3 separate regions of the Homo sapiens genome follow, and all the other regions are linked to region 2. Evidence: fine-mapped expression QTL. A gene starts in region 2. Each other region holds a variant in brackets. All regions are shown on one strand. Distances are between the middles of the regions.

Evidence for each region. PIP is the estimated chance that this variant, and not a neighbour inherited with it, causes the effect.
Region 1: its variant is fine-mapped to the expression of KCNMA1 in fibroblasts (GTEx, PIP 0.94).
Region 3: its variant is fine-mapped to the expression of KCNMA1 in skeletal muscle (GTEx, PIP above 0.99).

What each region holds. Positions count from the first base shown.
Region 1 is chr10:77,341,140-77,351,776 of GRCh38, forward strand. All of the region lies in intron 2 of KCNMA1 (potassium calcium-activated channel subfamily M alpha 1), which reads right to left. KCNMA1-AS3 (KCNMA1 antisense RNA 3) reads left to right here and starts at 9,733. Exons shown (of 6, transcript NR_126365.1): 1 at 9,733-10,271. RefSeq lists an enhancer at 9,135-10,334. The variant G/T (reference allele first, on the strand shown) is at 5,544.
Region 2 is chr10:77,632,757-77,643,393 of GRCh38, forward strand. It overlaps KCNMA1 (potassium calcium-activated channel subfamily M alpha 1), which reads right to left and starts at 5,052. Exons shown (of 28, transcript NM_001161352.2): 1 at 4,509-5,052. The coding sequence starts at 4,886.
Region 3 is chr10:77,488,358-77,498,994 of GRCh38, forward strand. All of the region lies in intron 1 of KCNMA1 (potassium calcium-activated channel subfamily M alpha 1), which reads right to left. Among named protein-coding and RNA genes, the nearest start is that of KCNMA1-AS3, 140 kb to the left of the region's middle. The variant G/C (reference allele first, on the strand shown) is at 4,331.

The DNA.
Region 1 (10,637 bases), 290 kb before region 2:
CCGTTCTGTATGTCCGTTGTTTTCACTGTAGAATGAAGTTGACAACAGCACTTATCTCATAGAATTGTTGCAAAGATTAAATGAGATATATCACACACTAATCTCAGTGCCTGGCACATACTGTCTTCTCAATACGTGTTAGCTGTCAAGATAATTTTCCACTTTCCCTTTCTGGGTCTAAGTCCTTCTATGAGCTTGTCTGTCTCATTTCCCAATTATTTCTCAGTGTTTTCTCATTTCCTTATCTCTGTAGCTCTTTCCTTCTCCTTTCTCTGTTTCTCCATCTCTCTGCATGTGTCTCCATTTTTGTCTGGCTTTTTCTCCCTCCTCCCTCATTCCCATTCAGGTTTACAGTGGAGAAACACAGCAATTTGCCTAATTTTCCCTCTCCCAGGTCAAGAGAAAGCCCTTCCCAGGCTCTCAGTCACAGTTCCTTAGACGTGGGTCCCCCAGATCCCCTTGTGTTCTGAAATGCCTGTGATGGGAAGGGGAGGGGATGGTGATGTGGTCTCCTGCCAGGAAAAGTTGCTGAAGGTTGGGGCTGGTGAAGGGGGTAGTGAGAGAGGGGCCTGCTGCCCTGCCTCAGGAATCACGTCCACTTCATGACTGGCTTTAGCAGCTGAGTCTAAAAGCTTTGGAAGGAAACGCTGGGTCCACCACTGGCTCCATTCCTGCCTCCCTTTCTGGCCTACCCCAGGATTCCTTGGCAGAACTTGGAATTTGGTATAGTCAGGGACAAACTCTTCTCTCAGATGCTTACTGTCCCAAATGGAAAGCAAGACCTAAGTGCATAATCCTAACCCACCATGGACAGACCCCTCTGGCTCCACAGCACCCAAAAGACCCCTCTGGTGAGGGGAGCAAGTCACCAATAATAACCCACAACACTTGCCCTGCACTGATGCTGCTTCAAAGGCCTTTCCTGTGCCAACCTACTGACATCCTTGCAGCTGCACCAAGGAACAGACTCCTCTTTCCCCATTTTACAAATGTCATGGCACATGGGGGCTAAGTGATATGTTCAAGGTCACACAGTTATAAATAGCAAAGACATGTTCCAATCTAAGCAATAACAACAGCAATAATAACAGCAACAGCAAAATAATATTAAGATAATTTTAATGATAAAAACACAATGTAGCATTTATTATATGCCAGGCACATGCAAGGGCTTTGCATCTATTAGCTCATTAAATCTGACGCCTACCCTGTGAGATAACTACTATCATTGTCCCCATTTTACAGGTGGAAGGGAAGGTCAAGGGAAATTCAGTCATTTGCCCAAGGCCTCGATACCATAAGAGTGTGGATTCAGGGATGTGCATGCTGCAGTGGCCAAGGCCCACAATCTTATGGGACAGCTGACCACCCAACCCCCAGCCAGATTCCTACAAGCCCCAGGAGTAAACACTCCCATGAAGAATCAGCTCAAGCTCACCTCCAGGCTGAGACAAAGGGTCACCAAGGACTGGCCACCACACGAATGCTTCTCCTTGGTCTTACAAAACATGAAAGGTGCTATTATCAGAAGCCATGCCTGCTTGCAAACTACAGAGGTGACACGAGGTAAATTCATTTCCTTCCTGTCAAGAGAAACTCAACAAGGGTATAATCAGAAGCTAATGTGTGTACTGTGATTGGGCCCATCACGGGGTGGCACATAATTGAACAAGTTCTCCATGCCTGGAGGAGCAGAGCCGAGCCCCATCACTGGGAAGTGTCACTCATCTGGCCAGCACACATTGGTTTTTAATAACATTATGGAAATAATGCTGCAGGGCTGTGGAAAGGACAGAAGCTTGAGGGGCAGGGCCTCATCAGGTCTCCGAGAGCTTTGACCTTGAGAAAGAACCTTCTGGCCCCATCCAGAATAGCCACTTTCCTCAGGGATCTCTCCTGTAGGCTTTGTGGATTTATGTCTCCTGGGCTTAAGGAACAGGGCTTGGTGTGGCTGAACCTTCTTGCTGAATGGATCCCAGGGGACCCCAGGTGAGCATTGAGGCCGGGTTCTCAAGAGACTGAAGGGGGTCGGGGGGTTACCAGAGAGAGGACAGGCCCTTTGCTTCCCCAGTAACTGTTGACAATGGTAATACCTCCATGGCCCCTACTATGAATCAGATAATTTTCTGAGGACTTTATGTATATTAACTCATTTAAACTGAAAAACAATCCATGTGATAGGTATTGCCATTGTCCTGATTGTATAGATAAAGAAATTGAGGCACAGAGAGGTGAATTTATCTAAGATCACACAGGTGGGAAGTTGTGTTTGAGCCCGGGCAGTCCATCATCCTAACCATACTCCCTACTGCCTCAATGAGCTGACACAGCCCAGCCCTGATAAAGGGGGTGGCAGAGGGGAGGGGGATGAGGTGCCTTCCTGGCTGTTGGCATTCATTTCATTCACATTTTTATCAGGCACCCCTTTCAACCAGATACTGCTGTAGGCACTGAGGATACAGTGGAGTATAAATAGATAAGAGTTATATTCTAGCGAGGAGACACAAATCCCATATAAATGTACAAATAAGACAATTTCAGAGAATGCCAAATACAATCAAGAAAATAAAACCAAGAGGTCATAGTGTCCGTGGCAGGAAAAGGTAAGTAAGTTATTTTAGAGAGGAGGAAAAGGTAACTTTAAGAACCAGAGACAACTGTTTAGGAGAAGGCCTAGCCAAGACTGAATAATTCATGTGTTAAGAGGTTTTCAATCACCTACCAAATACAGGAAGGAACCAGTCATTGAGGCTATTGAGAAGTCAAGAAGTTAGAGACCTATGAAGACAAAGGCAGCCTGGGCTCTGCTCCACCTGCCCACTCATGGGCCTAGGCATCAGAAGCTCCGCCATCTTGCACTGCAACCCTGGAAGCCACAGTCTCTTCAGTGCCATCAGGGAAGACAGCAACTGCACCACCACACACAGGCATCCCCTGCCCCAGCCCAGAAGTGATGCACATCCCTTAGTGCCTCATGTCCTGCCTAACAGTGGATGCTGGAAATTTACAGGAGCAACTGGAATATTCATAAGCCTAACTGCCTCGGCCACCAGCCCACAAGGGACACTAATGGAGACAGCAGAGTTGCGTGAGGGCTCACGAGCTAAGAGGTGGAACCCAGCCAGGCTGAGTAGAAAGTAAGCCATCGACAAGCAGGGAGTTAATAGGTTTTTCCAAATGAACGGTCCTTAATTTCAATTCATTGAGAGGTGAGGGATCAGGTGAAGGAAGCAAGGTGAAAAGGAGGATTAATCCATCCATCAAGGACCTTGGGTACTGAAAACATGAAAAGATGAATGCATTTGTGAGACATACTGATTCACTACCATGAGAAATAATTATCTTGAAGCTTATTTGGTCCCAGAATCAATCTTTATTTAACCGTACTTATTTTTGGTGGCTCATCCTGCTTGCCTCTCTTGGAAACTCAAGAAATGCTTTCTCTATTTTTTTTTTTGGGTAAATTCCAAAGACTTGCATATTTCATATTTTTCAACAGGATGATCTTTGTGTAGACTGACTGTCTTCCCTCTTCACTAGTCCTCTCTATCATTGGACCTCACCCGTAGTAATCACTCACTCCACAATCATCTTCTCTTGTTTCCTGCATCACTCATCACTACCTTAAAGTATTATTTATTGATTTATTATTTTTTTATAATCTGACTCTTCTATTGTAATATAAGGTGGGTAAAGACGGAGACCTTTCCTGTCTCCGTTGGCCACATCCCCAACACCACACCAATCAAGCAACAGACTAAGGACACAGCTAAATAAATGAACAAAAAGATAATAATAACAATCATGTGTTAGTCTTCATAACAATCTTCATTTATTCTTTTTGATTATTCCCATGTTACAAATGAAGAAATGGAGGCACAGAGAATAATTAAGTAACTTGCTCAAGGTTATACAGATATTGTAAAACAGCCAGGATTTGAAACCAGAGAGTTTGGCTAGAGGTTCCATGCTTTGTTGGTATAAATATTTAAGAAATATTTGTTGATTGAATGAATAATAAATAAATGAATGGCTTCCTTGTGTTTCCTGCCTTCTTTACCAGGGTTATTTGCCTTCAACTTTCACTGGACCCTCTATGTATCAGGCATGGTCTTAAATTCTCTTCACACATTATTCAGTTGAGGGTAGTCCCATCTACCATATCTCCATAGAATCGGTCCCAAGCCTGGTACTTAGAACTGCCCTGCATTGTCAGGCTCCCCCTTTGCCAGGTGGTGCCTCCCTAATCTGAAATCATGGACTGAGTACCTTCAAAAGAAAAATTAAACCAAAGATCAGGAGGAGATGCTTCTGACTTAGTGAGTCTAGAAGACCCTGGCCTCCCTTGCCCACTCTGCCCAGAAACTGAATCCCAGAGAGATGAAGTTATGGGTTTCATACCTGTGTCTGCCCATCAACCCAAGGGGGACAAATGCCAACATAGAATGACAGAGAGGGAAGGAAGAAAGTGTTTTTCCTAATTAATTGGCTCTAAAAGTGGAGAGGAACCAAGTTGGGTTATTATAGAAGCATCAGCGTCCGACACAGGTCTTCAACTGCCATGCAAATACCCCCTACTCTGCACCATGCAGTTCCCATGGTTTACTCTGTTGTGATGTAACTGTGCATGTTTCTACCTGAACCCATTGAACACGGCTTTGTGCTTGAACCTTGAACAATGCCTGGGACACAGTTGGTGCTCAATAAATAATGATGGGATAAATGAATGAGGGATCCCCATTCTCCTACCTACCTTGGCCTTGTCATCATCTCTCACTTTTGCGACTGCCAGATAACACCTAGCTCTATCCCCTTGAGCCATCCAAGTCTCAGACACATTCATATACTGACTGACCTTGAATACATACTCCCTTCCTGAAAGAGATGCTTCCCAGGACCCTGCATCATGGAAAATAGGAATATCATGGTAAACGTTGCTTTAATTGAACAGTGGAATCTATGCTAGTCTTCATGACGAACCTTGAAACACAAGAGTGCTGCAGTAACCATCATTCCTGAATTGTGGAACTTCACAGACTCAGGTTAGCCCCAAGTGATGCTTTGCTGAGCAATTTAAAACCCAGTCATGCAAAGCCAAGTGCTTTCATGTTTGAGAAACAAAAACATTTCAACTGCTCAGCACATCTAAATCAGTACTCCCTTAACAACCCACCTTGGTTCTTCCCCTTGATTCTGAAAGCCAATTTAGTAAGAAAAGCATATTAATAATCTTGCCCTCTCACTGGCCTTCCCTCCCTCCCTCCTATTCCAGCATCTTGCAGCTGGTACCTTGGGTCATTTGTTTTGTTTTTGTCCCTTAGGCTGAAGTGCGTCCACAGTTTTGAAACTGCTAACTAGAGTTTATATGGAAAATTCAGATTAGAAACAAATTCAAATGCACTCTCTCATTTTCCTGTAATACACTGGGTTTCTTCCCCCAATCAGCTAGAAGACTTGCTGGGTACCTCCTCATTGTGTCCTGTTGGAAAGTGTCTCTTCTGGTCACCTTGACTGTTAAATAAGTAAACAGACTCATTGGGGTT[G/T]CTGTGTCCTGTGACATTGGCACAGACTCTCACCCCAGCCAAGCATGCACATATCAATGGGCCACCATCTGTGGCAGAATTACCAGACCCAAGATGGAATTTGATGCATCTGTCCTGGTGAAATGGCATTATACTTCTGCCATATTCTTCTGGTTCAAGAACATTGTCCTCAAGCCCAAGGGACAGCCCTGTCCAGCATAAACATGATTAAAATGCCCATTGCCCGACTGCCCTGCTGACCAAGAAACATGGCCAAGCACAGAGTCTGCAAGCAGCCTGCATGTGGGTCTAAAGAAGAGGAAGGGGGAAAGTGTTTCCAGAAAGTAAGGTTGCCAAGATTTGAATCTCAATGTCACAATCTGGCTTTATGACCTTGGGTGAGTCCCTTAATCCCACAGAGCCTCAGTTTCCCCATCTGTAAAATGAAGAGTACCAATATCCTGATGTGTTGTGAGGATTACATGAGATCATTTTCGTAAAGCACCCTAGCACAGAGCCTGATACAGTGTCATTGGGAGCTAAGATTTACCAGCACTCATCATATACCAGGCCTTGTGCATGAACCCCACCTACATTATGTCATTAAGCATCACTGCATGCATAAGAAATGGGTGTTACCATCCCTATGTTACAACAGAGAAGACTGATGGTCAGAAAAGTTAAGTAACCTGCACAAAGGCAAGGAGGTAGAGACGAGTGAACTTAGGATTGGAACTCAGGACTCTCTTAACCACATGAAGAGAATCCAAGTGGAAGGTGCCTCCTACCAACGCTGAGATGAGGTTCGTGTCTGTGGGCCCCTGTCTGAGGCTGGTTGACAAGAAGCTTTAGAGAGACGCTTGGGGATGGCAGGCTTGCAGCCAGAGGCCAGGGTTTGACTCCTGTATGGGCTGTGTGACCAGGGGCCTCTTTACCGCTCGGGTGTGCTTCACCTCCTTCCTCCATAAGACAAGGACAACTGCATCTTCCCTGTAAGACTATTGGGAATAAAACAATAGGGCTTTGTGACCTTTGACCTAAGGTAGGATTCTTATACTACCCCATGCTCTATGACATGATAAGAAGACAGTACCAACACTCAGCACAGTGTTAAAAGATTCCAGCAAATAATAATGGATACTAACATAATAATAGCTACCATATATAGAATACATTATATTTCAGAAACTGTACTAAAACCTTAATTAAAGCACTTAATCCTCAATGCAACCCTGTGAAGTAGATGCTTTTTATTATCCCCTTTTACAGATGAGGAAACTGAGGCATGTAATGATTAGGTGACTTGCTCAAGGTCACAAAACTAAGTGCTGAAAACTTGGGATTCACATGGTTGCATCAAAACTTTATTGAAAGGATTGGTCAATCCAAGTGAACAACACATCTGGACTGTGCCCCATAGAAACAAGCATTTTAGTTTCACTAGAATCACCGGGATAAACAGAGGCAAGCTAACCCCTTTACTACAGGACATCTATGGTCTTTAACTTGTAAATACGAGGAAACCATCAAGAGGGAGATAGAGTATGCAGCCTTTCCTGAGCTTTGAGGGGCAACAGTGTGCTCTGACATACGATTCGAGATGTACCAAGTCTGAGTCATTTACCCTAAATAGAACAGCCTTCCATTGGCTGTTGGAAACACAAAGTAAAACCCAAAGAAGAGAGAAAGCAAAAGTGAAGAGGCCATTGTCCTCGATCCTTTATCTTTTGTTCTCTGATTCAGATCAGGAGAGGTGTGTATGCCTGCAGACCTGGACACCCGCAAGCCACATGCTGAATGAAGGCCCACAGAAGTCCCAAAAAAAGATGGAACCAGGGAAAGGAGGTCAGCCTGGAACAGTCCTGGGAAGCTGAGACCCAGCCCAGAACCTGCTGGAATCAATAGTCTTTAACACAACTGTGACATTAGCTTGGGCTGCTGGGATCCGTCTTGAAAGAAGAAGCTTTGTATATTTCTGCTCTTATTCCCCACAGGATCCAGAAATATATTTCTGTAATTCTTTTAGCTGATAAGTATGAAAAACAGAATTTTAAATATTCCAGTAGGGACCTGACAGAACAGGGCCATCTTCATTAGCTGCTGAATTTCCCAATGACTCCTAGAAATTGACACAATTAGACAAAATTAAGTGCTTCTGTCCTGAGGATAGGCCGCCACTGTTCTTTAGGGCATATCTTTGCAAAGGAAGGTGCTGGAATTCCTCACAAAAGCCACATCCCTCTCTCTCTCACACTCTTTCTCTGAGCAAATCTAAAATCTAGTGCCAAATTCCTTGGAGCTAATTCTAAAACCAGGAAAGCTTTTTGTAAGATTATAAAGATTGTATTGGACTTTGAAGATGAGTCCCTTTGCTCAGCAACTTACTTTCTTAATGCAATCCCTGAATTCTCCTTGCTATGCTCTGAATGTTTATGCCTGCCCACCCCCAATTCATACGTTGAAACCTCATCACCAATGTAATTATATTAAGAGATGAAGCCTTTGGGAGGTGATAACGTCATGGAGACAGAGCTCTCATGAATGAGATTCATGCCCTTATAAAAGAGCCTCCAGAGAGCTGCCTTGCCCCTTCCACCATGTGAGGACACAGCAAGAAAGTGCCATCTATGAACCAGACAGCGGGCCCTCACCAGACACCAAATCTGCTGGTGTCTTGACCTTGAACTTTCCAGCCTCCAGAACTGTGAGAAATAAATGTGCTTATCAGCCCCCCAAGTTTATGGTATCTTGTTACAGCAGGCCAAACAGACTAAGACATTCCTCCATCCTCCCATCGACTGGGCAAAAGGATAATATTACTTCCATTTCTATGGTGATTATGGAAACTCAGACCCAGCAAGTGGCTCCCAACCCACTGGGTGAGTAAGCAGGGAAACTGAGGTTAGGAAATGAACTCAGTTCCTTTTCTCCCCATCATCTTTTCTCCCCTATAAGAAACTTATCAGCAGTTCTTTTGCATGTAGAGTCAATCAGAAAATCATTAGCCAAGGTCAGACAAGAAACCACAGCTTTGGTTTCTTTGATTTCAAGGTTAGAATAAGAGCAATGGAACTTTAAAGAGCATGGATGGTAGTAACTGTCTCTGAGAAGCCAGCCACTCAAACTTTCCAGGCCCAGAATCAACATTTATTTGGAAAAACTTTTTGTTGTCCATTTTTTTAAAGAGCTCTAAACTTCCAGTGAGTCTTATGTAGATCTATTTATATGCCCATTTCTTCTTTTATTTTTTGAGACAGAGTCTCGCTCTGTCACCCAGCCTGGAGTATAGTGGTACGATCTCGGCTTGGCTCACCGCAACCTCTGCCTCCCAGGCTCAAGCGATTCTCCTGCTTCAGCCTCCCGAGTAGCTGGGACTACAGGCGCCTGCCACCACACCCGGCTAATTTTTGTATTTTTAATAGAGATGGGGTTTCACCATGTTGGCCAGGCCAGTCACAAACTCCTCACCTCAGGTGATCCACCAGCCACGGCCTCCCAAAGTGCTGGGATTATAAGCATGATCCACTGTGCCCAGCCTACATGCCCATTTCATAGGCAAGAATACTGATGCATAGGGCACACCACACTTTACAGGCACAAGAATGAACAAGTCTTTAGAGGGTAACTATTTCTTGTGCAAGAATCAAATGCAACTGCTGACACTTACAGTTTTATCACTGGTGACAGCATGAGTGGCTGAGTGAGCAGGATGAATCTTGAGCCTGGGGTGTAGACCAGAGCAGGGGCTTCCAGGTGCTCACACCTCTGGAAAGCAAGAGGAACTGGAACAGTTGGAGTTCAGAATAGGCTAAAAAATCTCCTGCCAGTCTTCACAGCAGAATCTCTGAGTGGAGCACACAGCCATTTTGAAGTTGGCCTACTTGGATGCCAGGGCTCAAAAATTCTAATGTGGCCAAAGAAACCTTCAGAGAACTACAGCAAATTCAACTGATAAATTTGTTCTACTCTAGAAAAGACACTGCCAAAATTCCAGTCCCTATCTATCAGGGACCTTGGATAAGTCCCTTCCCCTGCATGCATATCATCACAGACCATCCTCATATGGGGGTGGGGAGGGTGTCTCTCTCCCCTCTTCAGCTGCCTTCCTACCTCCAGGGGTGCACCAATTCACTGTGATGACCTCACAATCATGCCTGGTGATTATGAGGACTTAGTGGGATGATGCTCTGGGCAACCACAGGGATTGCTCACCGGTGACTCAGTGGTTGACTCAAAGGCTAGAGGGTGGTTTGGGGGTGGAGGCAGAGGTCCAGTGAGCTGGGCTCCACCCTTTCTCTCCCTGCAGTCCCAACTCCATTTTTATCTGTGCTATATGTTGGAGTCTAGCCAAGATGTCATTTGAACAAAGATTCTGAAAGATCAAAGAAAAAAGTTTGAAAACCACCAGGACAATGCTTTCAGGGGACTTTATCCAAAAGACTGCAACAATGTAAAGAGATACGATTGCTTTTATTACTGTGATATGTTTAAAGTATTATAAATTTTTTAAGAGCTTTGTAAGTGACAGAAGTGAAGACATGCTCATTTTAATGTTACCAGTCAACTCTGAGAAGACTAAAGGTCAAGGGACAATGAAAATGTGACCCTTACCAACGACAGAAACTCCCAGGAAGCCACAATTAACTCAAGACCACCAGGATATTTGGGGAAGTTTATCCTTCTGGAAACCAGAATTTCTGATTTGTGGAAAATTCTATAGATATTCTCTGCCAGACTCCAGCCTATTTGGTAAGCTGGCCACAGATGATTTAGAACACAATGACCCTGATACTCACTAGAGCTCTGAGTGTGGCTGGATAAGCCCATTTCAGCAGCATGTCAGCCCCTCCCTGAACTAGGCTCTGTCACTCAGATCTCAGATCTTAGGGCAGCTGTAGTCTGCCCCTTGCTTTCTTATTACCCCAGATAACCAATGTTATCCTCTGTTTTTCCTTCCTCCCAGGGGGAAAAGAATTCAGAACCCTAGTCTGAGTATATGAATTAGACTCTGCAAATTGTTTATATGAGTCATTCTCAAAACTAGGTCTGGAGGGTCCCCAAGAGATCCACAAATTTCTTGCAATATTCATGTAACAATGTTCATCTCTTTAGATC
Region 2 (10,637 bases):
ACTCAGCACTTCATGAAGCTATGATAGTTACCACTTACAAGAGGCCTGCTAAGTGTCTGGCATTTGCAGGGTGCTATGTGCCCATTATTCCTGCTCCCTATAAGAACCCTACAAAGTAAGCATCAGTATGCTCTTGGTATAGGTGATGTAACCAAAGCTCAACATGGTTGGCAGTCAAAGATGCCCTGCTAATAAATGTGAGATCCATGATTTGAACTTGGGTTTGCCTGATTGCAGAGTCTTGTACTAAAGTGTGCATTTCCATAAAGAGGGCCAGGGGCTGGACGCCGTGCCTCACGCCTGTAATCCCAGCACTTTGGGAGGCCAAGGTGGGCGAATCACAAGGTCAGGAGATCAAGACAATCCTGGCCAATGTGGTGAAACCCCGTCTCTACTTAAAATACAAAAATTAGCCAGGTGTGGCAGCGTGCGCCTGTAGTCCCAGCTACTTGGGAGGCTGAGGCAGGAGAATTGCTTGAACCCAGGAGGCGCAGGCTGCAGTGAGCCAAGATCGTGCCGCTGCACTCCAGCCTGGGTGACAGAGCGAGACTCCATCTCAAAAAAAAAAATTAATAAAAGGAGAGAGAGAGAGAGCAAGGAATGAGGAGCACGAGCTCTCTGGACAAGGGCAGGTCAGCTGGAGCTCCCCCGTGACTAGGACCCAAGAACTCCTCCAAGGCCACCCCAAGTGATCTGCTCAAAAAGGAGTATCTCAAGGTCATCTGGTGCAGCCAATCCCCAGGACAGGATGAGATGAGGCACAAGGGCCAATCTGGAATCAAGAGCTCCACGGCACTGAAGCTCCAGCCCTGATTGACTGCGTCAGGCCAGACCCTGGGTAATTACCAAGCTGTAATGGGATCTGATATTTATATTAGTCACGAGCCTGACAGAGAAAACGTGTTGTTTTCTCAGGCACAGCCATGGAGACAACATCTCGATAATTCATTACACGCAGACCATCCTTGATCAAGCCCAAGCTTCTACAAGGCCAACAGCTCAAACTGAGAATGGAAATAACTCTATGCCCAGCCACACTCAGGCCCCTCAACAAACCACAGCTCCAACAGGAAGTTGGCCTCAGTTTCCCCAGTTATTTAAAGAGAAGTAGACCACATGCTGGAAGACGAGCAGAAGATGGAAATAAAGATATGTAACTGTCCCAAGGCTGAATTCCTAAAGGAATTGCTAGGGAACTGCAAAACACATTCTGAGCTAGAAACTTTAACCCTCATTCCTCAACTCCTCCCTCTCTCCTATATCGAATCACAGAGCAGGAAGGGACATTAGAACTCACAGAATTCAATCCCCACATTTTATACACAAGGAAAGATAGACACCAGAGAGGTTAAATAACTTCTTCAAAGTCATGGCTTTATTCAGGCTACCAGAGCAGCTCCCTATTCAATATAGTCTATGACAGGATTGAACTTCACAACGTCACACCCAAGTGAATAGAGAGCTCTGATGAAATCCCACAAGGAAAAAAACAATAATGTGAAAAAGTACAGCAAAGAACACAGTACTGGAATGACTGTGACCAAGTTCCCAACAGGAGGAAATTGTAATGTTTTCTTCTTCACTTTCTGAAAAAGTCCACATGCCACTCTTTTCAAAAGACTAAAGTCATTCACTGTTTGAGATTCAGAGGCCAAAGGTACTAATGAAGAGATGTCCCACGATGCATGTCCACAGTCTTGGGTTCCTTTGATCAAAAAGGTTTGGTGCGATCCCAGAGACCAAACGCTCATGAAATTGGAGCTCCTTGCTGAATTTTATCTCCCACAGAATTTCAGACCTGCTTTCCTCTGGACTCCAGCTCTTGATCAAACCATCTTGGGGCTGAAGGAGGGTGAGGGTGAACCCATCTGAGGGCTGGTAGAATTTTCTGGAAAGGCAGCCTATGTTTTCTTGGGAAATCTAGCACAAAAATTATTATTCTAAGCTTAAGCCAAATACATGCCTGTGTATCGAGTCTTGACAAAACTACCAAATACTTGGAAAGAAAAAAGAAAAAAAGACAAACACACACACACACACACACACACACACACACACAATTGCAATAAAAATACAGACCTCAAGCATAGAAAGAAAAGCTTTTAAAAGGCCTAACTTACCGTTACTGCATATAATGAGCTGGCTACCTATGGCTTAAGTGAGCAAATCTAGGGGCAGGTATCAAGAGATTCTAGGTGTGCTTTAAAATGGACTTACGGTATCAAAAGGAACCTGCACTCATTCTATACTGGCCTCACATCTTCCAAACAAACCACCATCACCTCTCATCCCTGGCAGATTTCTTACAGCAACTCACTTCCAGTTATGTCCACTCAGCAGGTCTTGGGGCTACAAAACATAGCCAAATATTTACGAATTGTTTTTTCTAATCGTTGCCAAAAACCTATTTTCTTGAGTAAACTGACAGAAGTTATGCTTGCTCATCATTTAGGAGATCCTTTGTGTGTGCGATGGGATTAGCATTTCATTACAGACACTGCAATTGCATTTATGTACCCCCTAACATAAAAAGACTTTGGAAGCTGTGTTTAGGACCCCAGGTTCACAAAAACACCACAACTTATTTTCAATCATGGAAAAAGTTTTCATTATGATAAAAATTGCCCCCTGCCTGAAAGAAAGCAAGCTGTTAAAAAGTTCACCCAGATCACTCTATCTAGGGAACATTTCAGAGGCACACAACTATGAGCTATCTTTCCCCTAAAGACAGTCGCTGAATCTCAGTAAACCGGGGAACAAAATTCCCGAGACTGTTGGGGGAGGTGGAGGAGAAGGATGGAGAGAGGGAATGTGGGAATTTGAAGGCTCCAGGAATAAGCTGTTCTCAGCAGGAAGGCTAGTCAGGGATCTGGTGTATAGGGCTTTGCTTAACCTGAGGGCTTCTCTGGAAGGTGGGAGGTTTGCCTCCTTAACAAATAAGAAGAAACCTCTACGGCTGAGAAGGTAATTCCAAAGAAAACTCTCCGACCAGCACCTGCAGGCCTCCGGAGAAGCCAGAGAATGACGAAGAGAATGATGGTTTTCATATTTCTCCCTTTGTTCCAATACACCAGTATTTTCCAAAACACAAATGTGCTGCCACAAAACACAGCTGAGCTCCAGCACCCAACAGGATGTATAATTAATGATCAGGAGAGACAGGCTCCTTCCCCCCTGGTGTTTTCATAGCCAGCCTTCACCCATAGCCCCAGGCTTCCCTACTTCTCTCAGCCGCCAAGGAGGCTGCTACAAGTTGCTGTGCCCTGTAGAAGTTTGAGGGGTCCTCGGTTTAACTTTACTAGAAAAGATGTGAACATGTGGAGGCTGCAATGTGTATCTACCCTGCACTATTCCCCTGGATTTCCCTTCCCTCCAAAACGGTTCGCGCGTGAAGTCCCCTAGGATGGGAATTACTCAGAAAGAAGGCAGCTGGCTCACTCTCTTTTTTCCAGTTCTTTCTTTTTTATTCTGCAGTTTTCTATCAGTGTCGGGTCCCCCACTCCAGCCAGTGGCTGTGGGGAAGGGAAGACATCTCTAGGGACACGACTACAGACCAGGCAGTGAGCCTAGCAACCATACATCGAAGGTGTCGCCAGCCTCAGTGCCGGTGGGCGTCTGCACCAGGAATAGCTAAAGCCGACGACATCTAGCCACCTCGAGCGCCAGGGAAGACGCTCCGCGTAAAACCGCGGCCTCAGGCGGACTCCCGCTCCAGCTCCGCGCTGCTGGTGGCATTTCCGGGGACCCAAAGTGGGTGGCCTGGGGGCAAAGGAACAGAGGCCGAAGAACTTGGGGTATGTTCCACTAGAGCACCTAAGGGACGGAGTGGGAGGTTACATCAGATATGCGACCTCGACACATTCCAAAAGTGGCAGCCCCGTGGGCTACCCCCAATAGTGGGATGGATCTCCCCAACTTCTCTCGCCCCTCGAAGTCCCCCTGTTATCTCGGGCCATGCTCCTCCCCCGGGATTCCCTTGTGCAAAATTATTCTCTCCCTTGCCCAAAGGATTTTTCCCTTCTTTCTGACCCCACGAACTCATCTCCCCAACAGGTTCCTAAAGTATGGGCGGATGTGCTCCCTCTCGCCCACCGCCAGGAGCCGAGCCCCGGCAGGTGAGCGGTGCAAAACACGCACCCAGCTGCCCCCAGCTTCCTCCGTCCCCGCTGAGTTGGCTGTCCCCACCCCGCACCACGGCACCCGAGCCTGTGAGTCCCCGACCCCGGCCCCAGCCGCAGCCGCCAACAACCCTACAATAAACAAGAGGACAGGATTGAGCGTCCGCGTCCCGGAGCGCACTGGCTGGGGGCAACTCCTCACCCCCGGCGCGCCGCCCGCTGCCCCGATCCGAGAGCACCGGGAGAGCCGAGGGAAGGGAAGGCGGCGAGGGGAAGGCAGGCGGGGATGGAGGGAGGCACGGCGCGGCGCGGAGCGAGGAGGTGGGCTGCAGGGGACGCCGAGAAGCGGTGGGGCTGGCGCAGAGGGCGGGCGCCCGGGGCGCGCGTTACCTTCGTCTTGCCCCCGCAGTGGCAGCACACGGTCCACAGGTACTTGAGCGTCCGCCAGAGCAAGATGATGAAGAGGCCCCCGAAGAAAGTCACCATGGAGGAGGCCAGGAAAGCCCACCACATGCGTTGGCCCCGGCTGTCGCACGGCACCTCCATGGTCACCGGGATGATGAGCGCATCCATCTTGGGCTCGTGGACCGAGGACGAGGAGGAAGAGGAGGAGGAAGAAGAAGAAGAGGAAGAGGAGGAGGAGGAGGAGGAGGACGCGTCTAGGCTGAGATGGTTCGCGTGGATATTGCTACTCATTCTAAGACTGCTGCCTCCGCCGCCGCCGCCGCCGCCGCTGCTGCCGCCGCCGCCGCCGCCACCATTTGCCATAGCTAGCAACGGGCAGCCGGCGCAGGGGCTCGGGGGAGCTCCTCCCGCCGCCAGCGCCACCCCAAACACCCATCAACAGCCATATTGCTGCTACTGCTGCCGCCGCCGCCGCCGCCGCGGAGCGCGGGAGGGGGGCGGGGAGGCGCCTGGGCTCGGGGCGCTGTGCGCGACCTGGCGGGGTGCGCCGAGATATATACAGCGAGCCGCCGCCGCCCGCCCGGGGGGGAGGGGGATGGAGTGCGCGGGCAGCTCCCCCTCCCCGGCCCGCGCCCCGCTCGCCCCGGGCTGCGCTGGCCCCGAGCGCCGAGAGCCAGGGGGCGCCGCGGGCCGCCCGCGCCCGGGGTCTGCGCCGCCCCCGGGCCCGCCCCGGCTCCGCGCGCGGTCCCGGGTGTCCTCGGCGCCGCGCCGCCCGCCGTGCGCCACGGGTGTGCGCTGCGCTCGGCCGGTGACCCCCTTCCCCGAGCGCCTCCCGCGCGGCTAACGAGCCGCTCTCCGCTTATTAGGTGGTAACTCGTTAATAATGGATAATCGGCCCCCTCCGCCCGGGCGCCCCTGCGCCAGCCCTCCTCCCCCGGCTGCGCTCGGCTCCGGCTCGCCGCGCCAGTGCGCGCCCGGCCGCGGCAGGTTCACCGCGTCCGGCCGCCGGCCCGTGGCCGCCTGCTAGCCCATGTTCTCGGGACCCCCTAGTCCTGTCGCCACGCCGCTGAGCCCCTCGGCCTCCGCTCGCTCTTCCTCCTTGCCGCCTCCGACTCCTCCTCGTCCCCGTCCTCGCCGCCCAAGCCTCTTCGGCGCGCGCCCCGCGCTCCCCGCAGCCGCCAGCAGCAGCAGCTGCAGCAACTGGAGCGGGCGCGGACTCAGGACGACCCAGGCGGGAGGGGAGGAGGCTCGCCGCGCTGGCTCGCCTGGGCTCCGGGCTGGGCAGGGGTGGGCAGGGCCCCTCGGCAGCGGCCCGGCAAGCGCCCCTGACCCCCAGGGCGCAAGGTAGAGCGCCCCCAGCCCAGGCGCGGGGCCAGGCGCCTCTCTCCAAGGTGCTGCGCCCCCAGCCGAGAGCGGTGGGGTACACTGGGAGGACGGCGGGGCGCCCCGGTCAGGCCGTTTTTTTCCCCAAAGAGCCCCCAGTGGGGAGGGGAGGAGTGGCCAGCTGTCAACTGGATTCCACAGGCTGAGCTCCCCAGGACCCTCGGGCTTCGGGAGTGAGGAGGACCCCACGCCAGGATACACACAGCTACCCACCCCTACTTCGCTCTTCCTGCTACCTATGTGCCCAGGGTCCCGCGTGTGGCTGGAGGGTAGAGTCAGGAAGGCCAGCGGGTGGTCTGTGGCCTCTGACAGCAGCAGGTGGTTTCTCTCCTTTTTCCTTATTAGCAACAGAGGCTGCCCAACAAAGAGTAGGCAGAAATGATCAAGGACGACCTGGCCTGGGGATAGTGCAGGCCCCGATAGACAATAGAGTTCCCTGAAGGGTTGCTTTCCTCTCATATAGTCTCAGACTCCATCCATCCCGTGAGGAGGGCAGATGGGGGAAGAGGGACTCCAGACTTCATTCTGGCTCACCGTTCCCCATTTAGGGTCTTCCCTTCTCCCCACTTAAGATGAAGAAGGAGTCCGTGTTTGTTCCGTAGCGTGTCTCCGTACACCACCAGGGGAATCCCCCTTCTGACACTTTCAGAAACTTTGCGCCCCCTGAACAGCGTCCGTCCTCGTGCTACCAGCTGGACCCCAAGTTTTTCCAGCGCTAATTAAATCGAGGATGATCACGCTCTTCCCTCATTGCTGCAGTGGTTTCCCCAAAGTTTCCAGCTCATTAGTTTAAGCCTAATTGGAATTCTCAGGTTCCTTTCAGCTCTTCCCATGGAAAAGGCCCAAGTTAGCATCCTTAGCTTTACACCTGAGGCTGTCTCCGTGAGAGTCAGATCAGCCCTGCCCTTGTCCTTGGAGGTCTCTGGAAGGAAGAGCGAGCAAGGGAGGCTGAGCTGGGCAGAGAGGCTGAAGAGGATGTTTGAAGCTTCTCTCTTGCTTGATTCGGAATACATTCATTGGGTTTAGAGTACACATCCACTAAGAAAGAGTCAAGGCCAAAGTCAAAGGAGAAAATGGAATGAGGTAAGAGTTCTTGAGTATTTGGTTCTCAAAAAGAAGTGTATGTAAAAGGGAGCTGCAGAAAGTGTGCTCCAGAAAATGGAATTGTCTGAGCCTCCTCTCCATACCATCCCATAGTACCTCCAACCTCGGCCTCTGTGTTCAGCCACTCTGAATGCATCCCTGCCACACCAGACCCAAGCATGCAAAGGCCCTGGGCCTTTTCTGGTACTGGGTTGGGGGAGCGGGACCCAGAAGTGCTGTGGGGATGCGCAGGAAGGTGACTATGGCATTGAGGTTCCTTTATTAGCCTCTCAATGGCTGTAGTTTGCTGCTTTTGTGCCTCAGCAATGCCAAGAAAGTTAAGGACATTCCTTAAATCAAGGCCAAGATTTGAAATTTAAAAATAAAACACCCAGAACATAAAAAGGGCAGCAAAGGATAGGACTGTCTCCCCAGTGGGATATGAAACCTCCAGAATGGATTCCCTCACCCACAAAATTGAAATTTTGCAAACCAGCAAATCCCCTCTGGGGCCTTCTTAGACATTCCCTACAGCCTGGATTCCCCTGAAATGCCAGTCTGGGGTCTACTGGTAAGCAGCCGATGGCCGTGACTTCTGTCACCCCAACTGCAGGATCTATAGCTTTTTCTCCTCCATCATCACCTTCATCACCTCAGCATCTTTGGAGAGGGTGCTTGGAGGCCCCTCAGATGCCATCTCCTGCTCTCTTCATCACCCCTGCCTCTGCTGATTGAAGCTTTTAGCAACTTCTGTGCTGTCCAAAGCCTCGGCTTAGTCAGGAATCATCAGAAACTCTCAGTGTTGATGTCAATATCCTTTCCTTCCTACAATCCCCAGTCTCTCACCTCCTCCCTGAATGGCCTGGCTGGTAAGCACTGAGAGAGTGCTACCATCCACCAGAAATAGACATTCCCAGGCCTTTGCCCAGTTCTCTCTGGCCATTTCCACATTGTTCACAAACTTTTGCACCACTTCCAGAAAACTTGGCCCCTGGCATTACAAATTTAGGAAAAGGCTCTGCACAGACAGAACCTCAAACTTAAAAGGAACCTTAGGTATCTTTGATTTGATGTGTTTCTTCATTTATACAATCAAAATAAAGCCAGAAACTTCCCTGCCTACCTCGAAGGGTTATATGTGAGGATGAAAAAGAAGGCTGGGCATGGTAGCTCACTCCTGTAATCCCAGCACTTTGGGAGGCTGAGGCGGTGGGATCACCTGAGGTCAGGAGTTCAAGACCAGCCTGGCAAACGTGGTGAAACCCCATCTCTACTAATAATACAAAAATTAACTGGGCATGGTGGCACATGTCTGTAATCCCAGCTACTCGGGAGGCTGAGGTATAAGAATCGCTTGAACTCGGGAGGCGGAGGTTGCAGTGAGCCGAAATTGCACCACTGCACTCCAGTCTGGATGACAGAGTGAAACTGTCAGAAAGAAGAAAGAAAGAAAAGAAAGAAAAAAGAAAAAGGAAGGAAGGAAATATTATACAGATCTTAACTATAATTACTGTGACCCCAAAAATGGACAGGCAAGTCTAACCAGATCTTCTGACCCCTGAGCTCGTAATTGTATGTGCACATGCCTGCATGTCATGCTGTCCACAGCATGTCCACAGCCAGACTGTGGCCAGACTCCAGGGCACAGCAGAGCCCCTCCAGCCTAAATGAGCTCTCTGACTACCCAACACCACTCCTTTTCTTGCCAGTCCCTGGACAGCCTTGGAAATGGGAAAGGTATAGAGAAGCACTCTAAGCCCAGCACATCTTCCCCTAATGTAGGTGTGTCTGCAGGCTGGAAATTGAGGTCCATTGCACAAGAACTGAAAGTCTCAACAGAAGTAGAAACTTCACCCTCTGTTCTGAAAACACCACGAGCCTTATTTTTATTTCTAAATTCATTCAAAAGCTTCCCAGAGAGAAGGGCAGCCTCTGTACCATGTGCATGTGTGTCTATGGCAGCTCTCAAAGCAAATCAGAGGTTTCAAGCTTAAATATTCTAATCTGAACAGTCCTAACTGATTTAAAAGAAGTAAAAGGAAGTGCATAAACATACATACTAAAAAAGCAGAGTGACTAAGGTAAAAGGAGAACAAAAAAGATTATTTGCTAAAATGTTGGCCAGCATCGCAATTAATGTGCAATGGATTTTCTTTTCCTCCAACCTGGACCTAGTTCCAATACTCTGACATCAATCTTCGCGATTTTGCGATGGAGAAGCCAGGTGGTGACTCTTTAAATGATCTAGCGCCCTCTGGTGGATTTTCCTGGCACATGACATTATTTCATGAATGTTCAAAAAAGGGACTTAATTTAACAGTCTGAAATTTGAGATATGAAAATTCCAAGAGGAAAACCCTGCTGGAAAAAAAAAACTACAGGGAGTAGGAAGGAGGCATGGATCAGGAAGATGTTGGTCCAAGGATACAAAAATTCAGTTATACAGGAGGAATAATTTCAAGAGATCTAATTGTGCAACATGGTGACTACTGTGGATAAACAATGTTTTTTTGTATACTTGAAAACCACTGAGAGATTTTAAGTCTTCTCATCACAGGTAAATGATAAGTATGTGAGGTAATACATGTGTTAATTTACTTAAGTTAGCCATTCCACAATGTATGTGTATTTTGAAACATCATGTACACCATAAACACACTTTTTGTCACTTAAAAAAATAAGAAAAATTGATAAAAAAACAACAAAACCCTACAGCTTCAACAGTATGAATTATCTAGTTACCAGTCCTACCAGCATATAAGCTGTTGTGGATAAAGGCAGCTAACAAAGTTCATGTTATTACTATGACTTGATGTCAGATCTCAACTGTTACTGCCACCAGTAACCCTGCCCTTCCTTGAATCACCACTGTGTTTTCTTTTAAAGTCAGCAGTATCCCTCTTTCTAACCACCCTTGGTCTTCACAGTCTCTTTGTGAAGTAAAAAAGTGCAGTAGTGGCCAGGCGCGGTGGCTCACGCCTGTAATCCCAACACTTTGGGAGGCTGAGGCGGGCAGATCACCTGATGTCAGGAGTTCGAGACCAGCCTGGCCAACATGGCAAAACCCCATCTCCACTAAAAATATAAAAATTGGCTGGGCGCGGTGGCTGACGCCTGTAATCCCAGCACTTTGGGAGGCCAAGGCAGGTGGATCACGAGGTCAGGAGATCAAGACCATCCTGGCTAACACAGTGAAACCCTGTCTCTACTAAAAATACAAAAAATTAGCCGGGCGTGGTGGTGGATGCCTGTAGTCCCAGCTACTTGGGAGGCTGAGGCAGGAGAATGGTGTGAACCCGGGAGGCAGAGCTTGCAGTGAGCCGAGATTGCGCCACTGCACTCCAGCCTGGGCGACAGAGCGAGACTCCATCTCAAAAAAAAAAAAAAAAAATAGCTGGATGTGGTGGCGCATGCCTGTAAGCCCAGCTACTCAGGAGGCTGAGGCAGGAGAATTGCTTGAACTGGGGAGATGGAGGTTGCAGTGAGTCAAGATCGCACCACTGTACTCCAACTGGCAACAGAGCGAGACTCTGTCTCAAAAAAAAAAAAAAAAAAGGCTGTAGCTATTTTCCCACTTTACAGGTGAGAAAACTGAGGCTTAGCTCTGCCAGGTTACTTGGCACGACAAGGAAAGTCTGTTACCTCTGA
Region 3 (10,637 bases), 140 kb before region 2:
GCGGAGGGAATGGGGCAGGGCAGTGGGCCACCCACCTTGTGCCATTGGCTGCCGGACCCTGAGCACTGACTGGTTTGGAGCCTGGTGTCTGGGCTGGTAAGGAAGCAAAGGTGAAAGGGGTGTGGGATAAGGCAAGGTGAGGGAGCAGCTGAGCCAGCATCCCCTTCTGATCTGTTGATAGGCTCCACATCTAGGCCTCTTCTAAACAAAAAGGCTGAGCTGCCGGCTCAGCAGCAGCTCTGTGGGTGCACAGCCCTGCCCATCATTTCCCCCTGTATTAGGAACAACCGCCCAACTCTGGCCCCTGGGGCAGGCCCAGAGCCCAGGGGTGACGAGGAGACAGCACCTCAGCCCTGGAAGGTACCATGTCCAAGTGCTCCTCAGCCAGGGCAGCCATGTTCTCTGGAAACCAGTAGAAGTGCAGAGGACACTCTGTTCCCCAATCAGGGGCAAAGTTGCCACAACTTCTCCAGACTTGGTTTTCCAGGGCCATAGGTCACCTGCTGACACTTCATTTAAACCATTCTCCTGTTATAAAAAGGGACAGTTTGGCCAACCTCTCAACTTACAGGCCCTTTAGCCCAGTGTGGCTAGCCGGCTCTTCCCAGGCACCCACAGGCCAGGAGCTAGGAATGCCTGCTCCACTCAAGGCCCACCTGCCCCTTCCCATCTTCCCCCTCTAGGCAGAGGGGGTCATAAGGGTTGCAGGAGCCTCAGACAGGGGTAGATGACCCCAGGGCCTACCTGTGATCTCAGGGCGATGGGTAGAGCTCACAGGGCTGACAGACAAAAGATAGGGTGCCAGTTACATTTGAAATTCAGAATAAACAAGAAATAATTTTTTAGCATAAGTATGTCTCAAATATTGCATAGGGCATACTTAAACTAAAAACTAAAAACCAAAAACCTATCTTGCTTATCTGAAATTCAAATGTAACTGGACAACCTTATTTTCTTTTTATTTATTTATTTTTTATTATTTATTTATTTTTTTTGAGATGGAGTCTCACTCTTGTCGCCCAGGCTGGAGTGGAGTGGCACGATCTTGGCTGACTGCAACCTCTGCCTCCCAGGTTCAAGCAATTCTCCTGCCTTAGTCTCCCTGGTAGCTGGAATTACAGGCACCCGCTACCATACCCGGCTAATTTTGTTTGTATTTTTAGTAGAGACAGGGTTTCACCACATTGACCAGGTTGACCTCGAACTCCTGACCTCAGGTGATCCGCCTGCCTCAGCCTCCCAAAGTGCTGGGATTACAGGCGTGAGCCACCGCGCCTGGCCTGGACAACCTTATTTTCATTTGCTGAATCTACCATCCTTACTCTATCAGCAAGCCCAGAATAGGAAAACCTGGTTTTTCCAAAGCAGAGCTTAATATCACAAGAGAAAGAGCCTTGAAAATACTATAGAGTAAGGCCTCATTCACATGGGTGAGGTTGATAATTTACTTCACAGGTGAGATGACAGTATCAAGGTTCTGTCTGGCCTCTGGCCTCTGGTCAATTGATTCAAACTTTGGATCCCAGCTCTGGTGCAGCTGTGCTGCCTAACCTCAGCAAGTCACTCCCCCTTCCTGGTGGTCAGTTGTCTCATCTTCAGGTTAGGACAGAGTTTCTCAACCCCGGCACTGTTGACATTTTGGTCCAGATTACTCTTTATTGAGGAGGGTTATCCTGTGTATTATAAGATGAGCAGTGTCCCTGGCCGCTACGCACCGGATGCCAGCAGCACCCACCCCAATTTGCCAATGTCTCATGGGAGGCAAAATCATGCCTGGTTGAGAACCACGGGGTTAAATGACCCTATATCCTAATATCTAGGGCTCCCACCACTTTTAACAGTCGAGAATTATTGGGTTTACACATGAATTTGTGGCAAAGATTCCTCTTAAATATCCAACTCCCATAATGAATCTAACAGGAGATGTGAATGACCAGGGTTTGATTACATGTAAACTTTTTAAAAATGTATCCTCTACCTCACTCCCCTCAACCTCATTCCAGCATTCAGAAATTGACCTAGCCTGATTCCAGCAAGTGGCTCCAGCTCTTTGATGGCCTTACAGACAGCAATGACTTAATAATACTAAAAAATAAAATTATCATCACCCTGATTGAAGGGAATGATTTACTGGAACTTCTTGGGCAAACAGTTTTTGCTAGTTTAATATTAATATGACTACTACTAACGATAGAGTGTGTAGAGTGCCTACAACACGCTAAGACCACACTAGGTTATGTCATTTAATCTTCACAATAGACCTAGGAGGTTGGTGCTGTGCTTATTCACATTTAGCAGTTGAAAAGAAATTAGGCAGTTTGCCTAAAGTCACAGACTCTGCCTGTGCTCTTTCCAACACAGAAACAGTCTATTTACATACAGCTCTCACAGGAGTAGGGAAATTCATTCCTCCCTGGGCCTCCATTCCAGGTAAATACTCACAGTCTTTCATCTCCAGGACCGAAATCTCTAGGACCACACAGAACCCCAGTCCTTATAGGGCTGCCACGTACAGACAACACACTGGCTTGTAAATGTATCTTGACCTTGCTTTTACCTTGAACCACTCTTTGTAACTCCAGGGCCTACTGTAGGAGCCCTAATCAGCCCTACTGTAGGAGCCAGGCCCACATCAGGCACTCCCTCAATAAATGGTTGCTAAATAACTCAGTGTTCCCCCATTTCAAAGATGGAGACACTGAGGTCCACCTCTTTCCGTGCAAGTCATTATCTAAAAGAAAACCAACGCTGGCTCTCAGGTTTTGTTTGTCCTGAATCCAAAATCCCCCACAGTGCTGATTCACTTTGTTTTCTTAACTTGCTCTTAAGATCCCACATTTCCTTTTGTATTATTAGTGGATGGAGAGTTGATTGGATTTGAGTGACCTGGTTGCCTGGTGGCCCAAAGGACTGGCCCAGGAGACCACTGAAGAGTTCTAGAGCCTGGATCTGGAACTGGGGCCTGGAAAATCGTGTGTCCGTGCCCTCAGTTACTAGGTCACCTTGAGTGGGGCTGCCACATTGTTCCATGGCCCAGTTTCCCCTCGGACAGCATGCTGAGTGAGATTCCCCCCACGGCGTGCTATTATTACCTGGCACACCAAGGAATTAGGCCACTGCTACAATGAGGCCACCCCGCCCTCCAAGATTCTTCAAAATTCTGCTCCTTAGAGCAGGACAACAGGGCAATGTAGGGCAGTGGCTCCAATTTGCTGAGGACTGCAGGATGAAAGAGGGCATCTTGGGGTGACTGGGTGAACACTGTTCTGGGACACCCAGCTATGACAGAAGGGACCACAGAACAAAAGGGTGCAAACTGTGGGCCTCACCCTGGGGGGAAATGGGTTTAGAAGTCATACACACACACACACACACACACACACACACACACACACACCCTACATATACCACCAGGGAGTCTAATTTTAGTAGCCATTTGCCCCAGCAAAGCACTTTGCAAGTAGTTATTTTGAGAAATGGTATTAGCCATTCGGTTATTTTTAATGCCCCTTCTGTGACAGGCATTTGTGACATAAACAGCAGCTGAAAGACCATAAACCCATAGCCCTTAGATGTGTTCAGGGCCCAGGCAGCAGCCCCTTGGGATGTCCCAAGCCCAATTCAAATGGAGGGAATGGGCGAGCATCTTGTACGCCCTGCCGGTCCCGCCTCACTGCCTACTGCTCCGTTCACTGGGGATGGGCAGCAAGATTTGACTGAATGGGAAGCCCCTCTGGTCTGTGACAGCCAGTGTGCTAATGACAACCTTCAGTGCTTGCCGACAGAGTGCAGGTGAAAATCCACACTGCTAATGAAGGTCCCTCGTGGGCTGTCCCCAACCTGATGTTCTCAGACCCTGCTCCCAACACATGGCTTCCACACTCTCTGCCTTCCCACATCCTCCCCTCTGCTCAAGCTGACCTCTCATTTGGATCAGCCCACTCCTCATCTCTCATAACCCAGCCCCTGCTGATCTGCATGCTCTGATTCCCCATAATGAAAGAGCTGGATCACCTCCTTGGCCTTCTGCATCTAATAGCTTGAATTGTTGGCCACCTGTGTACTTGTATTTCTTATTGAAGCCACTGCATTTACTCTGTACTGAGGATGCACCAGGCATCATTCTAAGCCCTTAATGAAGTTCAGGGAACTTTCCTGAGGATCCTAGCTGGTATCATCATCATCTAGATTTTCGAGATGATGAAATGGAGGTATAGGGAAGTTACCCAAGGCTTCTTTGCAAGTAGTGCTCTAAGCAAGACTACAGATGCAAGAGCCTCACGGTCTAGGTCTAACCCTGGTTCTGCACCTTGGAACCATGGACAAGTTC[G/C]TCAGTCTGTGCCTCAGTCTTTCCCTGAGTTCCTGTAAAGATTAAATGAGTTAATGCTTATATGATCCCTTTACAGATGTCTGGCACATGACAGGCACTGTCTAAGAGTCCTCGCTTGTATGGGAGTGGAGAGGAGAGGCCAGAGTATTGTAAGGTAAGATGTATTAGTGCCTACAATGTGTTATGCAATGTACTAAAGCATTCTGCATGTATTATCATATTTAATGCTCATAATACCTTGTGAAATTTTACAAAGAAATTAAGCTTAGAGAAGTGAAATCATTCTCCTGTGGTCAAAGCCAGTGAATGGGGATTTGAACCAGGTAGCTGAACACAAGTCTAAGTTTATTAACCTGAATCCTCTGCTGGTTGTCTTGACTCTCTGGAAACTGATCATGTCTTCAGATTTCCCACAGTTCCTGGCACTAGGTTGAGCACTCTAAACAGATTCAATGCCAATTGCAGGCTTCTGACAAGGCTTCCTAAATGCAGAGCCCTGGCTGCAGATCAGGAGACCCTGGCCCCTCCAAGGGCACCCCGGCTAATCAGCCTCTTCTTCTGACTTCTGACTCCACCCCAGGACAGGCATGGTGCTTCGAAAGCAGAAGTAAGGCAGCAGAACACTTGGAGAAGCCTCGCTGAGGGCCAGGGCCTGGTGGTTCGGATGGCAGCAAGCTGCCCCCAGGGACCCAAAACCCAAAGGTCAGGAATGTAGTACTGGCCAGCCAGGGCAGGCACTGCTGTGTGGTAGAAGAGAAGTCCAGAACTGTGAGGCGTCAAGCGTGAGTTGGAGGCAGGATGGCAGTGAGAATGCACGCCCAACTGAGCGAGTGCGTGTGAGTGAATTATGTGTGTGGTTCAGTTTTAGGCACTGGGCAGATTTGCAAAGCTCATCACCCTCCTAGAGTTGCCTGCAAAAGGCCACATGTTTAACACCACGTCAATCAATCAACGGAGGTGCACTGGGTGGGGAGTGTGTGGCCAACCCAGCACGGGGAGCCGTGCAGCTGCAGGGAAGAGAGCATCTCTTTCCCCAGTGGCTCATGGTCATAGCCGAGGACACAAGACTGGCCCTTGTGGGAAAATTGAGGGGACCTGTTAAATGCTGACCTCTAATGTGGTTCCAGTTGAGTCACCATATTTCTTGTGAACCTCCAAAGCACTGGAAGACTTCTGGGCCTCGCGTGGCTGCAGGTGAAACATACAGCCAATCACTCCACCCTGGAGTCTTGGTTTCCTCCCCTGCAGAATGAGAGTGACGCTGATAAGACATCTCAGGCAGAGGCGAAGGAGGTGAGCCCTGTGGGAATTTCGGCTGCCCCTGTGCCAGGCTGAACAAGACAGGGCCTTTGCTTTCTGGGGGCTGATGAGTCATATAAAGGGGATAGAATCAAACACTCAAAAGACAATAACCGCAACACAGGGCTGGGTGAATAAATACACAACTGGCTACTCAGAATGGGATAACCATGGGAGAGGACTTTTAATGCCAAAGAAACTCACCACGTTGCCTTTGACTTTGAAAAGTGATCTGTGCTTAATCTGGCATTTCGCCAATTGGACCATGAGCAATGGGGTCCCAGTCCTCATTACCCAGTGCCTCCTTTGCTTCAGGCCAGGGCTGAATAGGTACTTAGGACATTCCTAAGAAGGACTGTGCAGGAGGAGGCTAGCCCAGCTGCCTGGCTAGCCTCAGCACACACATTCCCTGGAACAGCAGCCTCGCTTACTGCCAGACCCCACAGGGGTTTCTGCAGGGGCTGGACAAACGGGCACATGGGGATGAAAAGGGTAGAGTCCCCAGAGTCAGTCAATGTCAGTGAATTGGCAGCCGCTGCTCACAGAGCTGTCTGGATTCTTTGCAGCCCAGAGAGCACCTTTCACCACCCAGATGGGGAGGCCTTGCCAACCCTGAGCCCCTCAGGGAGGTCATACGTGTGATTCTCAGACACCAGAGGGAGCAGTTTTCCAGAGAGTGAAGAAATGGGATCCGGGAAGCTTGGTGAATTCGTCTGCTGGGGCTGCCATCATAAAGTATCAAAAACTGAGTTGGATTAAATAATAGAAATGCATTGTCTCACAGGTCTGGAGGCCAGAAGTCTGACATGGAGATGTCGTTGGGGTCAGTTCCTTCTGAGGGCTGTGAGGGCACATGTGTTCCAGGCCTCTCTCCTAGTTTTCTTGTCCTTCCTTGGCTTACAGATTCATCACCGCAATCTCTGCCTTCATCTTTATAGGCATTCTCCCTGTGTGCATGTCTGTCTCTGTGTCCAAAGTTCCCCTTTTTATAAATATGACACCAGTTATTTTGGGTTAGAGCCCACGCTAATGATCTCATCTTAACTTGATCATCTGCAAAGACCTTATTTCCAAATAAGGTCACATTCACAGGTACGGAGGGCTAGGACTTCATTATCTGTTGGGGAGACACAATTCAACCAATAATATTTGAGTTCCTCAAAGGAAAAACAGCTTTTTAAAAAGCCAAACTGAAATTCCTAACATTACTAATATACTGGAACAGAGTCCCAAGAAGTAGGCTCAATGTGTGAAGGAGCTTCCCGGTTCCAGCCCCCACGTTACCCCAGCCCAGGCCTTTGTGGCCTCCCGCCTGCACTGCTCTGTGATGGGCCCCTTGCCGGCTGCCCTGACTTGGCCTGTCTCCCTTCTGCTACCTCCGCATCAGGCTGCCACACCTTGCATCTCACCACCAGGTCCACCTCGGTCACGACACCTTCCTGGTCTAAAGGCCCCAGTGGCAGTCAACCACCCAGAGGGCTGACTGTGGCTCACTCCTTTTGACTTCAGCACCCTTGGTAATCTGCACCAACAGAAACATCGGCCAATGAGTGCCGTGATTTCTCTGCCCGTTTTCTCATTCATGAAAGGGAGAAAAAACGAACTCTCCATGCATCTACTCCCAACACATTCCCCTGAGAAGCCTGCGGGGAAGCTCCCTGGGAGCCCATTGCCAAAGCTTCCACCTCATGGAGCTGGCGTGTACACAGACAGGCACAGCCTGCCGTGCTGGGCCACCATACTGGTGACTGGCTGTGCTCTGGTCCCAGCCCAAGGGGTGGGCAAAAGAGGAAAGCCAGCCTCATGATGAGCAGAGGACAGGGAAGAGACCCCCACACCAGGGACTGACCCCTCCATTCCCTCAGAGGAAGCAGAGGCTACTGAGCCACCAGTACCCCCGCGGTTCCTCCCTGTAGTTGCTCATGGAAAGCCACCAGCCTCAGGAAGTCTTCCTGTGTGGAAGCTCACTGGCACCAAGGCAGGCTGAGCCCCTCTGCCAAAGGTTCTGGGCAGCCATCGGTCTGATAAAGACACAGAGCCCTCCTTGGAGGCCTGGAAGCCCCACCCCTAGAAGGTGGTCCTTGAAAGCTCTGTCACTCATTTCTTCTCCAGAGCCCCTGAAGCATCCTCCATGCAGCTGTGCCCACCTGACCATACAGCCTGGCCCTCCCTTAGCAGCACCCTGGACTCCATTCCTACCACCTCCTTGACAACAGAATCCTGTCTGTCACCCTCCTCACCAGGTGCGGGTCTTCAAGATAAGAGACCACCTCATGCATGTTACAAGGAATGCTCTAGAAGGAGCACCATTCAAGAAAGAGAGGACAGGGCCGGGCACGGTGGCTCACGCCTGTAATCCCAGCACTTTGGGAGGCCGAGATGGGCATATCACAAGGTCAGGAGATCGAGACCATACTGGCTAACATGGTGAAACCCCGTCTCTACTAAAAATACAAAAAAATTAGCCAGGTGTGGTGGCGGGCGCCTGTAGTCCCATCTACTTGGGAGACTGAGGCAGGAGAATGGCGTGAACCCGGGAGGCAAAGCTTGCAGTGAGCCAAGATTGCGCCACTGCACTGCAGCCTGGGTGACAGAGCGAGACACTGTCTCAAAAAAAAAAAAAAAAAAAAAAAAAAAGAGGACAGGTTGAGCGCCCTGTCAGACCAGTGGGCCCCCAAAGCTATATACCATGTTTGTTTACCTACTTGATTTCTCAACATCACTGTGAGGGAGCTATGAACATCCTCATTTTACATACAGGTAAGGTAACTGAAGTTCAGCTAGATTAAGTGTGTTGACCAGGACACAGCACTAGCAAGAGCCTGAGGACACCTGGCTCCTGCTGTCACCTGGCTGTCTTCACCTGGTGTCCCACAAGTACTTCAAACTCTGCTCTCCAAAGCTCTGCTCATTGTCTTCCCACTCGCCATCCTTACCAGCCCCTACCCACACTACCTTGCTCTTCCTGAATCCTTTGTCCTCACTAGGACACCACCCTCTACTCTGCTGACCAGGCAAACAAAAGGACCCAGGCGAACAAAAGGACCAGTGTTGCCCAAGGCCTCTGCAGAGGTCTGTGCATGCATCTCAGAGAGCGAACTAACCATGGGAGTTCAGCACTGATCCTATTGTGTCCTTCCACTGGCTTTTTGTCTGAGCTCCCACTGGAAAAACCCTGCATTCTTACTTGATGAATTTTCAAAAGCAGCCAGGGCTTTATTATCAACTGTCTTTTATGAATAATCAAAGTCCAATGGGGACTCCCTAATTAGCCTGGGCATGAAGGCCATTTGCATAACATATTGAATGCCTCTGGAGTGTCAGGTACCTCAGTAGACATGATGGTTCATGCACTAAACCTCAGCATGTGACCAAGCCTATGGCCAGACACAGATGAACTTGAAAGTGATGCACTGGAAGTCGATGCCCCTTGAGGGTGGGTGAGCTCACAGAGTCTATTCCTGACACTGTTGCTCTCACCTCGTGACAAAGAACCAATGCTGCTTTCTTGCATCCACCCCTGAGTTCCAGAACCCCCGCAGACAGGCTTCCAAAAACTGTGTCCCCAAACTAAGACTGTGTGATATGTAAGAAGAACTGGCAGGGGACCCAACCTATATTATAAAACCTCTTGATCTCCTAAAAGAGAGCTGAGTTTAACCCGACTTAGATCACCAGGACAGATGCTATCACAGAATCTTAGAATCTGAGGTTGTAATGGTCTTCTCCAATTCAATATCAAATCCAGTGCTCCCAGTCCTCTTCTCCTAGGACTTTGTATTTGAGGTGGGGAATAAGGGAGAAAGTGGAAGATGTGGCTAACTTGCAGGTGAGTAAAGGAGAAGTCAGGAAGAAGTAGTGACTTGTCCCCCAATTCCCACACTCAGGAGCATGGGCAGTGGAGGGAGAAGGATGCTGCCACTGGCTTCATTTACATTTGTCCATTTACAAATACCATGGCAACAAGAGCTCAGGCATGCAATGCCCTCCTGCCCAGATTCCTGCTTCAAAATCAAAACAAATCCAGTATGCCTGGAAAACCTGCCACAGCTCAGCAAACTAGGAACAGGTGCCATCAATGTGCCAAAAACCTAAAGGAATCTGAAAAAAAAAAATCAGTTATGCAGAAAAAGAGAAGGCAGGGAGGCCCCTTGGGCAGCTTTGCTCCCTGAGAAGCGGCAGGATGGTTGTGAAACAAGGAGTGAGGCCCTTGAAGAACCTCACATCAGAGCTGCCTACATCAGTAGGGCTGAACAGGGAGGTGAGCCAAGTATCAGGCACCGGGACTCCCTGGTCACTATGGATCACAGCAGTGTTCAGCAGCAGCAGCAGCTCTGAGAAGCCCTGGGAATCACATGGCAGATACATCCAGAAGAAAACTGGCCAGGGCAGGGGCTTGTCCCTGACACAGCAGGTGGCAGCTCCAGGAAGGAGGACAAGTCCAAGCACAGTTTGTACCTGGCATGTTGGCCAGGTTAAACAGCAAGCCAGATGCAAACAGTTGGCACAAGGTGCAGTGGCTTTACCAAACACAGAGAAGAAATATCACAGGATTAAGTTCCCCTTCTGGAACTATTCATGGTTCCAGCTCACTCACCCAGACTCACAGGTCTCTGCAAGGCTTCACTTCATCATCCAGTGCTCTAGTGCAAGATCCGAGAGTAGCATTCTATGGGCAATGAGGTGCACAGCAGAGGAGCCCAAGAGAATTGACCCTCCCTATTTACAGGCAAACACTGACTGCATTCATGGATGCAAAACACGAAAACCTCCCACCAGACCTTGAAAACATTCTTAACTATAAAAGGTAGAGAATGCAGCACTCAAAATAAATAAATTTGAAAAAAAAAAGGACTGGGTGGGAAAGTGCCATTATCATCATGGCCAAGAGCACAGGCTCTGCTGTGAAACTGGCTGGACCTGAGTCCTGGCCCCCAGTCAGTACCCAGATGAGGCTGAGTAGGGCTCAACCCTCTGGACATGCGTTTCCCCAATCTATATAATGAGG